Regions from separate parts of the Homo sapiens genome. Here all the other regions are linked to region 3. Evidence: fine-mapped expression QTL. A gene starts in region 3. Each other region holds a variant in brackets. All regions are shown on one strand. Distances are between the middles of the regions.

Evidence for each region. PIP is the estimated chance that this variant, and not a neighbour inherited with it, causes the effect. A credible set is the group of variants that fine-mapping cannot tell apart.
Region 1: its variant is the best candidate, but not a certain one, in a credible set for the expression of SREK1IP1 in skeletal muscle (FUSION, PIP 0.86).
Region 2: its variant is the best candidate, but not a certain one, in a credible set for the expression of SREK1IP1 in whole blood (INTERVAL, PIP 0.64).

The regions. Positions count from the first base shown.
Region 1 is chr5:64,722,411-64,726,656 of GRCh38, reverse strand. SREK1IP1 (SREK1 interacting protein 1) reads left to right here. Exons shown (of 5, transcript NM_173829.4): 5 at 2,084-4,246. The coding sequence ends at 2,273. Among named protein-coding and RNA genes, the nearest start is that of SHISAL2B, 34 kb to the right of the region's middle. The variant G/T (reference allele first, on the strand shown) is at 2,406.
Region 2 is chr5:64,717,442-64,721,687 of GRCh38, reverse strand. It overlaps SHISAL2B (shisa like 2B), which reads right to left. Exons shown (of 3, transcript NM_001164442.2): 3 at 3,498-3,799. The coding sequence ends at 3,666. SREK1IP1 (SREK1 interacting protein 1) reads left to right here. Exons shown (of 5, transcript NM_173829.4): 5 at 1-3,540. Among named protein-coding and RNA genes, the nearest start is that of SHISAL2B, 29 kb to the right of the region's middle. The variant C/G (reference allele first, on the strand shown) is at 2,154.
Region 3 is chr5:64,766,540-64,770,785 of GRCh38, reverse strand. SREK1IP1 (SREK1 interacting protein 1) reads left to right here and starts at 2,095. Exons shown (of 5, transcript NM_173829.4): 1 at 2,095-2,281. The coding sequence starts at 2,269. It overlaps CWC27 (CWC27 spliceosome associated cyclophilin), which reads right to left and starts at 1,856. Exons shown (of 14, transcript NM_005869.4): 1 at 1,598-1,856. The coding sequence starts at 1,639. It overlaps LOC124900985 (a long non-coding RNA gene), which reads left to right and starts at 2,290. Exons shown (of 4, transcript XR_007058787.1): 1 at 2,290-3,831. RefSeq lists enhancers at 1,360-2,084, 1,803-2,122, 2,273-2,362, 1,514-2,713, 2,085-2,811 and a silencer at 2,050-2,344.

The DNA of each region.
Region 1 (4,246 bases), 44 kb after region 3:
CAGCTTCAGATAGATTTATCAAGGCGTAACTCCATCATAAGTTGAAGTACATCTGTATATTTCTTTTTTTTTTTTTTTTTTGAGACAGAGTCTCGCTCTGTTGCCCAGGCTGGAGTCCAGTGGCACAGTCTCAGCTCACTTCAAGCTCCGCCTCCCGGGTTCACTCCATTCTCCTGCCTCAGCCTCCCCAGTAGCTGGGACTACAGGTGCCCACCACCATGCCCGACTAATTTTTTTGTATTTTTAGTACAGACAGGGTTTCACCGTGTTAGCCAGGATGGTCTCAATCTCCTGACCTTGTGATCCGCCTGCCTCAGCCTCCCAAATATTTTTTATAGTAACAGATTATTTATTTGGGCCTCTTTACCTTGAGCATCACAAACCTGAAATTAAATTAACTTTTCTGTGCACACTTAGCAGAGATAGTGCCCCCTGAAAGTGTTGCTATGCCACAGCCTGAAATTTTGCCTTAAAAAGGAGACTTCAGGCCAGGCACGGTGGCTCACTCCTATAATCCCAGCACTTTGGGAGGCTAAGGTGGGTCGATCACCTGAGGTCTGGAGTTTGAGACCAGCCTGGCCAACACAGTGAAACCCCATCTCTACTAAAAATACAAAAAAAATTAGCTGGTGGATTACAGGTGGGTACCTGTAATCCCAGCTACTTGGGAGGCTGAGGCAGGAGAATTGCTTGAACTCGGGGGAGCGGAGGTTGCAGTGAGCCGAGATCACGCCATTGCACTCCAGCCTGGGCAACAAGAGTGAAACTCTGTCTCAGAAAAAAAAAAAAAAAAAAGAAACAAACAAAAAAAAAAACTTCAGGACCAAAAAGCTAAAGAAAAAAGTGCAGGCAGGGAAGAAGCTTTAGTCAGAATCCAGAGGTCAAGTCAAACAGGGTCTTTAAAAGAGGAAAATAGACAAGATTTGAGAATAACAACTGAAGAGGCAAGGGTGCAGGAGAATACATGAGAAAATAAGCTTTAACAGATGATTGGAAGTCTAAGTAAGTAGACAAACAAGGAGGAAAAAGGAACACAACATTACAAAAATAAGGGAAAACTCGGAGTCACTAAAGGAGGAAGGCAGTCAAGGAATTCACACACTATACAGACACAAAATAGCCTTGGAGCCCTGTAGTCTCCTGAATTTACATTGGCACCTCCTTTATATCCGTCTCAGATTTTCTTAGTTTGAGTTTTAACTCCTAATATTTAGATCACTAAACTAACTCTTTAGATACCTTTGTTTACATTTTAAATTAACTCAGTTTCTGTCTTGTCACTCATATTTTGAGTTTGAGTATAGGTAGAATGTTGCACATCTCTTTAAGTAAGATCTTAAAAGATAGGGTTTTCTGTTTTTTTCTTTTTCTTTTCCTTTTTTTTATGAATATTAGAGGAAGGAATTGAACCAATTTTTTCAATTTAGTATTAGAGTAATATTTTTCAAAAGCACAATGATAACCCATCCTTTTTCATTTATATATAGCATAAAAGCATCCTTTTGTAACTAATGAAAATTATTTTGTAATGCAAGTATTCATCTGTATCACTCTCCGTCTAGAGGGATCAAGTACTTGAAAAATCAGAAGAATTACCAAAAGTGCTTTTATTTTGCTAACTTTCAGCTTTCATTCATTCATATGAACGTACAATTATAGCCCTTTAAAATAGAGAATTGCAACTTTTGAGACACTTTTAAGAAAATATGCGAAGTTATTGTATACACAAGTGAATATAATAAGGCTTGGTGAATGCCCCTTTGTTTGCCTTTTAGGATTTTGAATGATATGACTGCATGAAAAACCAAAAATCACAGAAAAATAATTTCATCCTTATTGACTTTAAAACTCATTACATTAGTATTGAGTGGAATAGATACTAGTTTTGTTGGTTTCTGTGACCAAGCAGCAAAAATTCTAAATTCATCGTTTTAAGGGAATGCAAATATATGAAGCATTTTTTAAGTTTATGTTTATACTCCCTACCTTACTCCAAGAAGAATTTAAGGCAGTTCAAATCCCACTTAAATTTATCTATCAGTCATAAATGCAATTCTCAGTCAGTATGTATTATTATCCATAGGTCTTACTCATCCAGTTCCACTGAAGAGGACACTTCAAAACAAAAGAAACAAAAATATCAGAAGAAAGAAAAGAAAAAAGAAAAAAAGAGTAAATCAAAAAAAGGGAAACATCACAAAAAGGAAAAAAAGAAGAGAAAAAAGGAAAAGCATTCTTCTACACCTAATAGTTCTGAATTCTCCAGAAAGTAACTGAGACTTTGGCTTAAGCCGTTAAATTTAAAAATTTGTTTTTAAAACGTGTTTGCCCTTCCTTGGAATTTGCTATATATTATGCTTTGCAATAAATCACAGCCTTTTCCATATAGACATTTTTCGTATTTG[G/T]GACCATTATCCCTCTGGCAATATATTTTTAATGTGCTGTAACTGTAAAGTATTAAATCAGTCTTGTTACTTGATAGCCATGCCCCAAGTATAGCTATTTGTGTATACTAAACACATCATTTTTGGTATTTGTGTCTCTGTGTGTTTGGCTAGTGTTACTACTTCATAAGTTCATTGTAAAATGGCTTTACTGCCATCAACATGGGTCATCTACCTAGCAGTTAATGAGTATTGCTGGATCAGGTGTCCACCTTCCAATGATGAAGCAAGGTAAGGGGTAATGTTTTGCTCTTGACACAGAGAAATTTAATAGCTTTATGTACTAAAATATAATATCTTTTAAAGATAGTGAAATTCTTCAGTTTTTTAAATCTCTAGGGATTTTTTTTCAATGTTGTAGAAGATGCAGCTGCTTAATGGTCTTGACTAGGACTTTTTAAATGAATGGTGTCTGCAGGTAGATGATCATGAAAATATCTCTAACAAAGTTTTACTCTTCTATGAAATGCAGAATTTCTAGTACCTGCCTCCTTTGTTTTTGTAATAATTAAAATACTTCTTGTATAAAGAGATTAGTTCAGCCTGTTAGTAAGTCTGCAGAGATGATGCTGAGTTGGTTGTGATTTTTAGAATAGACTCCTGGGTTGTTTTACAAATGTGCCATATTGGCATGTCTTACAGTGATACCTCAAACACAGAAATTTTTATTTAGGAAGATAGCTAAATCTTTATTAGAACTGATTTTTATTGTATTCAGTATAAATTTTATGAAGCTTGTTTCTATGAGTACTGTGGAAAATTTTATAAATGTGAGCATATATATTTATTTTGTCTGACATAATTTGTAGTTTTAAAGCAAGTTTCACACTGAACTTAACGTTTTCATAAATGACCAGTTTGGGATGTTTCTCTCTTTTACTTTAGTGGCAAACTCAAGAGTAAAAAGTGTCAAAAAAAGAATTGAGAATTTTATTCTGTACTTTTTAAAATTTAAGAGCCAGGGAGTTGCATCATGAAAGCCTTTGTATAATAATGGAAATTTTATATGGGTAAGCATTTTCAAACACATATTAGTAGATACGTTTTTTAAATTTCTATTTTCACATTGATCAGTGTTACTTTGCTTAATACTTAGGTAGCCCTTATGTCCACTAAAGTAAATGCTTATGTTGTAGAAGCATCGAACATCAACCAATGTCATGGCACAGCACCAAAGATTGCAAATACCTCACTATGGTGCGCTTAGAAATTTTCAAATTGATAACCTATAGATACGGCTGCAGGTGAATTCATGATAGTGAAATCAGCTAAGTATACTTAACCTCACAGGCTAGAAAGGTTTACTGATTCTTGTTTCACCTGGCACCCAATGTGGATACCCTCAGTAAGACTCAGGGAGCCTTATAACTCCTCTTAACATATGCTTACCCATGCTTAAATTCTAGGGAAGCTGTATCCACAGCCCTCTGCATTGCAGCCATGAGAGCTCTCACGCTTTCAACCCTTCCATAACCTAATTTAGTCATTTGGGCCTCTCAAAAGGAAATGCTTTTGTTTAAATAGGTCAGTCAGTTACTGGGAGAAAAAATACAGAGCCAGTAGGTTTTTAGGGATTTGTTTTGCCTTTGCTGCTAGTTTTTTGAAAATATTCTTCGATTATCAAGATTTTAAAAATCGGTTTTTAATATAAAGCTTTTTTAAAAACGAGGCTGGCACAAGTGCAGTGGTGTTTCTTTACTCCCACTGCTTGACTTGACTAGCCTTGAAAAAATAACAGTAAAATAAAATATTAAAAAATAATTAGAAAATGCTACAAAGGCAATGACCTTATTCCATTGAGT
Region 2 (4,246 bases), 49 kb after region 3:
GCAGAATTTATATTTAGGTTTGCATCTGGAACTAGATTATCTGGCACTTTATGGCCATTATTTTTGGGTTGATGGACCTTCTCACCACACAATTTCCCCCTTTTTTTTTTTTGCATATCATATGTTGGTTGATATTTCTCAGAGGTATCCCTATTTCTTCATACTTAATATACATCTCCATTTACATCTTTGACTCTCTGAGGTCAAAACAACAATAAATGAGAAGTAAAACAACTATATGTGTTTGTATTTACAACTGTATCTAAAATTATATAACCCTAGTTTACCTTCAGAGTAAACTAGGCTGAAGAGTTGTTAATAATGTTGATAAAAATGCCATTGAATCCTTTCTTCAACAAATATTTATTGAGTACCTAACGTGGCAAACGCTGTGCTAAGTACTGGGGATACAGAGATAAGTAAGACACATTTGCCTCCCTGAAGGACTTCACAGTGTAGTTGGTAGGAGAAACACCAGAGCATACACCGTTATATAATTAGTGCAGTAATTGACATGAACATGAGTTTATAGAAACTCGGGGTTACCTAAAGTAGTCTGGATAAATTAGAAGAGGCTACCTAGAGAAAGTAGTGACTGAATTGCAATTTGATTAAGGATAAGAATGAGGGTTATGGCAGTTCCTGACAGAGTGGGTACTGTGAACAAACACCAGAGGTAGAACAAGCTGTGTTATGTGTTTGTCAAGAATTACAAGCAATCTGGTGTTGCTGGTGTATCATAGGCGAGGCAGGAAGTGGTAAGAATTGAGACTACCATTTTAAGTTCTTAGGAACAGGAGGAAGGAGTCGTGTGTTCCGTGTTTGGGAGCTTGAACTGTAATGTGTAAGCAATGAGACACCATTAAAGAGTTTCAAGGGGGGCCGGGCACAGTGGCTCACGCCTGTAATCCCAGCACTTTGGGAGGCTGAGGCGGGCGGATCACCTGAGGTCAGGAGTTCAAGACCAGCCTGGCCAACTTGGCGAAACCCTGTCTCTACTAAAAATAGAAAAATTAGCCGGACGTGGTGACAGGCACCTGTATTCCCAGCTACTCTGGAGTCTGGGGCAGGAGAATCGCTCAAACCCAGGAGGTGGAAGTTGCAGTAAGCTGAGATCACACCACTGTACTCCAGCCTGGGCGACAGAGCGAGACTCTATCTCAAAAAAAAAAAAAGATTTTAAGGAAGGAAATGACTTTTATTAGGGTTTGGTTTTATCAATTTCATAATCCGATTAATCCCACCATTTTTAAAAGATGAAATTGCTTTCATTAGAAGGCTACATAAAATATAATTTGATTATTTTAGGCTCTATTATTAGACTCACATTTCTTTCTACAGTCTCATTATTATTTCCAAAAATTACACAGTAACCTAAATCATCTAAAAACACATAAAGCTACTGTATTCTTTATTAGATCCATCCCCAGAGTTATATGTACATGTACATACTTTGAGATGTGTTTTGTTCTTAATTGTATTTTAGGTTATTTTTGACTGACTTAAATTCTATCACTATTTTAATATTTGTTAGGTCCGAATAAACCATTTAGAATATTTTTCAGTGTACAAAATGTGCTGTAATTTAATAAGGCCCCTTGCTTTTAAAATTTGGCTTAACCTGTGAAGCACAACTGCTTCAGAGTTACAGAGAAACATACCAGTTGGTCCACTGGATGAGCCCTGTGGTTCTACCTCAGGTAACCTAGTGATAAGCTAGCTCAGCAGGGAGTGCTTCAAGGACTCCAGCTGATCCTAGTGCTGAGACCAAAACTTCCTGGACATTGGGTGCCCAAGAACAGTAGGTTTCTTATACCAGTGTGACAATAATCCCAGTTGCGAAGGCCAGTCTTCTGATCTCAGTATCTCCTCCCAACTCCTCTAAAAATAGGTAGAGTGGCAGAGAATTGGGGTGCCTCTTCTATAGCACAACCCATGATGCATCCAGTCATGCCTGACCCCACTATGCCTTTCCCACAAATTGGGAGGAGTTGGGGCAGTGAGCATTTTGCTAGCTCTGTCTGTTTCTTGCTTCTTGTGCCATTTATAGTCCTTGGCCATGAGCAACAAAAGTAGAATGGTGCCAGTGCCTTAACTAAATTTTTCTCAACCTAGATTTTCACCTGAGACAATATGGTAATATTATTAAATTA[C/G]TGTAAAGATAGCAAATTTTCTGGGATACTTTAAAATCAAAGTTGTATCAAAGATCAAGAAGCACCCATAAAAGCTTTATAAACTTTCACAAAAAATAAGTGAAAATTCTTTGTTTTTATGGCCGTGTAAAATGTCATTTTTATAATGGAAATGTCTTAATTTTCAAACTTAACATATACTTTAAGCAATTTTAGTATTTAAACCTTTGCAAAATTGTATTTTTGAATGTGAAGTTCAACTTTGGCAGTAGGTTGTTGCAATAGTGATCTGGCACTATGGTGCCAGTATAGCCACATAGGGTTATTTAAATTAATTAAATAAATGAAAAATTTTATTTTTTCAGTTGCATTAGCCACATCTTAAGTGTTCAGTAGCCACATGTGACTGGTGGCTACCATATTAGTGCAGATATAGAAAGAACATTTCCATCATCACAGAAACTTCTCTTAATTCTGGTCTAGAAGATAACCTTAGTACTTGGTAGAAATTTTGACAGGCTAATGACGAAAAGTTTGTAACCCTGAGCTTTGCATGCCCAAGAAAAATAAGGTATTCTTTTTTATATATCAGACCAGAGAAGCTGTATTCAGCACATTTTGAAATGCTAGTTTTTGGCTATGGCCATACCACCCTAAATGTGCCAGATCTTGTCTGAAATGCTAGTTTCTGACTACAAAAACTACAGGACATAGTAGATATGCTCAGTAGAGCTGCTTAAAATAATTCCCTTTTTTTTTCTGTTGAATTCTGTTACAAAACCAGGTCTGTGTTATAATAGAAAACACACTTATGAATAAAAATCTTTAAAAATTATAATTTGCAGAAATTAGTTTTATTTCTAGATTTCTAGGTGGTATTAATGTGATAGCATTAGGTGGGACCAGAGAACTCATTTGTTTTGTAGCTTTCATTATACAGATTATTTAGGAAATATATCAGCAAAGGATTTTTTGTTATGCTTATCTCTTGAAACAAAATATTTATTGTACAGATTATACATTGTGATTTTTTTGTTACTGAGTATATTGTTTGTGCCCAGAAAAATCTAAAAAGATGTGGGTTGACTTCTAAGAGATTTAAGAACAAGTCACCTCTAGTTTTTAAGACAGTTCCCTTGATATTTACCTATCCAGTACCATCTCATAAGAATAACTGCCTGTAAGTATCAGAAAGTTGAGAAATGCTGGTAATGTGACATAAACTTCTCACTGTTCTTCACTGAGATAGGACTGCTTATCTTGTTATTGATAAATTATTTAATTTCTCCTGAATAATTAGCATAATCTCATGTGATACAGAAACATCTTAATTAGCAAATAAATTTATACAAAGGAAAACCAATAAAACCTTAATGTGCGTTTAATAAAGTAACTGAATGATCAAAAATGCAGCTGTGTCTTGCTTTGTGAGTGACGAATTTTTGAAAAGCAATATTACAAACCGTTTCAAGTGCACGCTTTATTTTTATTGTCCCATCTCTCCAGTAAGCATTTAAAACACAGAATTTTTAGTTAATAAGCAATGTGGATTTGTGTTGCATCCATTGTTTTTTCTTGAATTATATCATCAGCTTCATAGTATGTTTCATTTGTTGCATTTGATGCTGCATTTGAATTGAGGGCTTTGGTTTTTCCATTTGACTTGCCTGCAGATACACAAAACAAAATAATTATTTGAAATTATGACATCGTTTCACTTATAAAAATTTGCACTTAAAAATAATTTTTGTAGCAATATTGAAAATATGATGTCCTGAAAATGCTATGTGTATGAGTGAGAATTGAGTTATTTTGAAGTGGTTTTTGAGTATTTCCTTATGAAAGTCAAATAAGGGAAATAATTCAGTAATAAAAAAATTTATTTCCATGCTTACCTTTTTTCCTCCATGCTTCCATGAGGAAAATAACTACACATCTGATAAGAAGGTAACAATTTCTGAGTGACTTAACAAAAGTGTGACTGTCCCTCTCCTATGCATAAACTACACTAAAGCCAATCATAGTAACTTGCCCAACCTTAAGGCTTTGCCATTATAACTGATTTAGATGTGGTTTATTAAAAGGACACAGTAGTGCCACAATCCCATTCACTC
Region 3 (4,246 bases):
GCTTAATACTTCTCAAAAACTAAGAAAAATATAGTATTAATTCATCCATCCATTCATTTATTCAATACCTATCTGAACTCCTTCTATCATGTATCAAGTACTGTTCCAGATGCTTGTCTCTGCCCTTATGTTCCTTACATTCTATAGGGGGAAGGTAGGAGGAAGGATACAGTAATACTAAATAATTAATAAATACCATGAAAAAAACTAAAAAGGTTAAGGGGGCCAGAGACTGCTGGGATGCAAGGCATGATTGAAGTTTGCTATTTCATAGAAAGTAGATAAGAAAGGGCTCTTTGCTAAGGTCAACACTTGATTAGACAGAGGAACAGCAAGTGTGAAGGCCCTGTCTGGCAGGATGGTAAATCTATTCAATCTCTACCAGTGTTTATTAACTGGGGGTGATATTGCCCTCAAGAAACATTTGGAAATAGGAGGAGGTAGGTATTTTGGGTTTTCACATTGATATTAAATAAGATAGGTGAGGGGTGGGATGGACATACTAATCTACAATGCCCAGGAGAAGTTCAAACAAAGAATTGAAAGAATTGGTCTGCCCATAAAATATCCATTACATTTTTGCTGGGAATTACAGCATTTTTGGTTTCACTTTTAAATTGCTCTCATTACATTATCAAATGTCAATGAATAAAAGACTGTATAAATTATTTATGATGCAATCATGTAACAAACAGGATGGTATGTTGTGTAAATTTAGCTTATCTTAATTCAACTATATACTTCCAATCTCATTTTCTCCAATATGCTGATTCATCAAATTTCATATGTGATATAAGCTAGGTCTCAATTTAAGAATTCAGGTGACACTTATTCCACAACAGACTCTTCTGCCTTGTACAGCATACAAACATCTTGGATGGGAATTGGCATACATTAGCCATCAAATCAATCAGAGAAACCTTTCCCCATTCTAATGTGGTAATAGTCCCCATTTCCCACTTTCTCTGACTGACAGTCATCTCAGGTTTTAAAACCAGCTCAAAAGATATCTTTTCCATGAGGCTTTTCCTAACTTCCCCAGTTGTTCACTACTCAGTACCGCCATAGCAACCTGGTCTCTTCTCCACAAGCACGCTTATCAGACATACAGGCTTTTGTTTACCTGTCTGTCTCACAAACTAAACTATAAGCTTTTCCGGGAAAACAACTACCTTACCCATCCATCTTTGTATCTCCGGCGCCTAGTACAGTGCCCAGTGCCTCGCAGGCGTTCAATTAATGATTGTAGAAGAAATGGAGAATGAATGACCTTAGTTAAGCAAAGAATATATCAAACTCAAAAATGTCTGTTTAAAAACCTAAGACCCCAGAAATCGGCTGCATGAGTTGGGTTAAAGCATTAAATAGGACCGGAATGCTGGTAGGTAGAGAAATCTCCACTTGACTTCTTCAAGTACATCCTGAAAAGTACCAACATCAGTGTTTCGATGCAACATTGTCCACATGCAGGAGTAAAGACAACACTTCTCGTGGTCTCTTCCTACCACGAGATCCTGAAACCCACTCCCCACCCCAAATCCGGGAAATCTCACTTTGGGGATCCCAGGACCCCAAGTTCCCTAGATGAGGCTCTCACCTTCCCATTCGTGGGAGGCTCCTGGATGTAGATGTTGCTCATCTTGGTCAGTACAAAGGACTCTGCTCCTTACGGGGGATGAGAGCGGCCGGCCGGCCACTAAAGCTGTCCGCCTACGAGTACACTCTTCCTTAAGTCCAGTGGTGCAGGAAAGCTTCAGTTTGTCAATATCACGCAAGACAGGGACACCAAACACTACCCCTGCCCAAAGGAGCCCCTCACGGACGCCGCCATGTTGTTACCGGACCCGAGCACCGCTAACCCTGAGAAGGGTTATTCCAATGTACTCCAGGGAACGAGAAAAGTCCGTAAAGTTACCATAGCTTAATGTTATTTATGTTATTTGTATTACAATATTAGAAGGGACACTTCATAAGTGTTGGCGGTGTTTACACTACTCTCGTGTGCAGATCAAACTAACTCCCCCTCCAAAACTATCAGTAATGGTTCGGACCATGTGTCTTCTGCAATATGACTCGTCCGGAAACTGCATCCGCATCTACTGGTTCTGCCGTCGCTAGAGGCGTACAGGCCCTTCCCGACCGTAGCGAGGGTGCTGCTGCGCTGGGGGAAGGAAAACGCCGCTTTGACTGTGCCTTGTTCTCACAGCTGGCGGGAAGCAAGCGCCTTTTCGAAAGCCAGAGGCTCGAGTTACCCCTCTTACCACCGTCATGGCAGTCCCAGGTAAGGAGCAATTACAGGGCCTCTGCGTCCGAGCTCCGAAGGGAGCGCAAGGGAGGGTAGGGTAGGGTGCGGCGTGTACGGAGCAGCGCCCATGGGGATTTAGGCGGAGGCCTTAAAATTCACAGGTTTGTTTTGTTTACATGAAAAAGTTTACACTCCAAACATAAACTCTGAAGGAAAGAAAATAACTATCTTCCCCCCAGGAGCCAAGCCCCAGCTGCTTGGGATTACAGGGAAAGTGTATTGTGGAAGGGAGGGAGGAGGGAGAGACTGTAACTGTAGGCCTAAGGGGGCAAGCGGCCGAGAAAAACTACCTTAACTGTGGTATGGCTTAAAACTAAAACTTGAAGTGGGAACACTTGGCCGACCCAGGTAACCGGAGGCATCGTTTGTCTTAGAAGTCGCTAGGACCCACCGGGTGTGCGGGTTCTACTCCTAGCTCTTCCTGTTGTATGTAGCTGCTCCGTGGCCATAGATTGGTCGCTTTGTGCTTCTGGGCCTCAGTTTCCTTATAAAAAGAAGGAGCTTTGTTGAATTATATATAAGATTTCTTCTAACTCTCAAATTCTATGTCCAGAAGTTACTGACCTAAAAACGGTGAACTCTGCAGAATAATTACTTAAAAGATTTTCTCGTCCTCAACTACCAGCTTACTTGGAAGTTCTAGTAGCGGAAAGCATCTCCTCAAACCAGCTTTGCCACTGCAGAACACTGATTGCAGGAGACATTTTCAGAAATACACACTTCTCCACCCCACCTCCCAACTTGGAAATTCCCAGCGCACTTTAGTAATAGAAAAGATTCTATTCTATTAGAATAGAATACTATGAATTGCTATAGAATTACTATGAACTATAGAATTACTATGGTTCAGAACCCTAACTTTGTTTAAACCTGCACTTCCCAGTATTATTTGACCAGGTTCTTTATTCTGTGGCAGCCTTTTTGAACCTCCTTCTACAGATAGCTGTTATTGGAACACTGTGCTTTTGTACTAACTGAAGTTTGCGGAGGAGTACATCTGGAGCTGTGAGAGAGGAAATGTACACTCTTTATTAAGCCTACTGTGTGCCAGGCACTGGTACTGGGCATTGGAAATACAGTGGTGAGCAAGGTAGACATGGTTACGCTTCACACAGAACTTAGAATTTAGCAGTGAAGAGAGAGAAATTTACAGAAAGTGGGACAAGTGCCATGGCAAGGAAAATACAAGACCTTAGCACAAAGTAAGGGCACCAAACACATACAGGATGGGCAGAAGGACTTTCCAAAGGAGGTAGCACTTAGGAGGAGATCTGAATTGTAGGAGGGGTGGCTTGAAGGGAGAGGAGACTGCAGTCGGAGGAACTGGATACGTAAAGGAAGAGGAAATATGTGAAAAGAGGAAATGAAAGATGTTTTCTATGGATGGAACTCAAATACAGATGGGAGATAAGTGAGAAATTAAGTACAGAGGTAGTAGCTGTAGCTAATATTGACTAATATTTATGTGTCAAATATGTCAGAATGAAAGATGTTTTCTGTGGATAGAACTCAAATACAAATGGGAGGTAAGTGAGAAATTAAGTAGATAGTAACTGTAGCTAATATTGACTAATATTTATAAGTCAAATATGTCAGATACTATATCAAACATTGTATTCTATCTCATTTAATATTCACAACTGCACTGTGAAATGAGTATTAATATTCCCATTTTACAGATGAGGACACTGAGGGACAAAGAAATCAAGTAATTTGCCTATTATGAGACAGCTGGAAAGCAAGAAGTCAGTCTGGTTCCTCTAGACTGTGTACTTCATTCATTTTGCCATCGTATAGGATAACTTACAAGGTAGTTTCCAGCTCTTTAAGGACCTGTAGGCCATGACAAGAGGTTTGGCATTATCCTACAGATGGCAGGAAGCCATTTAAGGATTTTAAAGCAGATTCACATTTTGGAAAGATAATTCTGGCTAGAAAGTA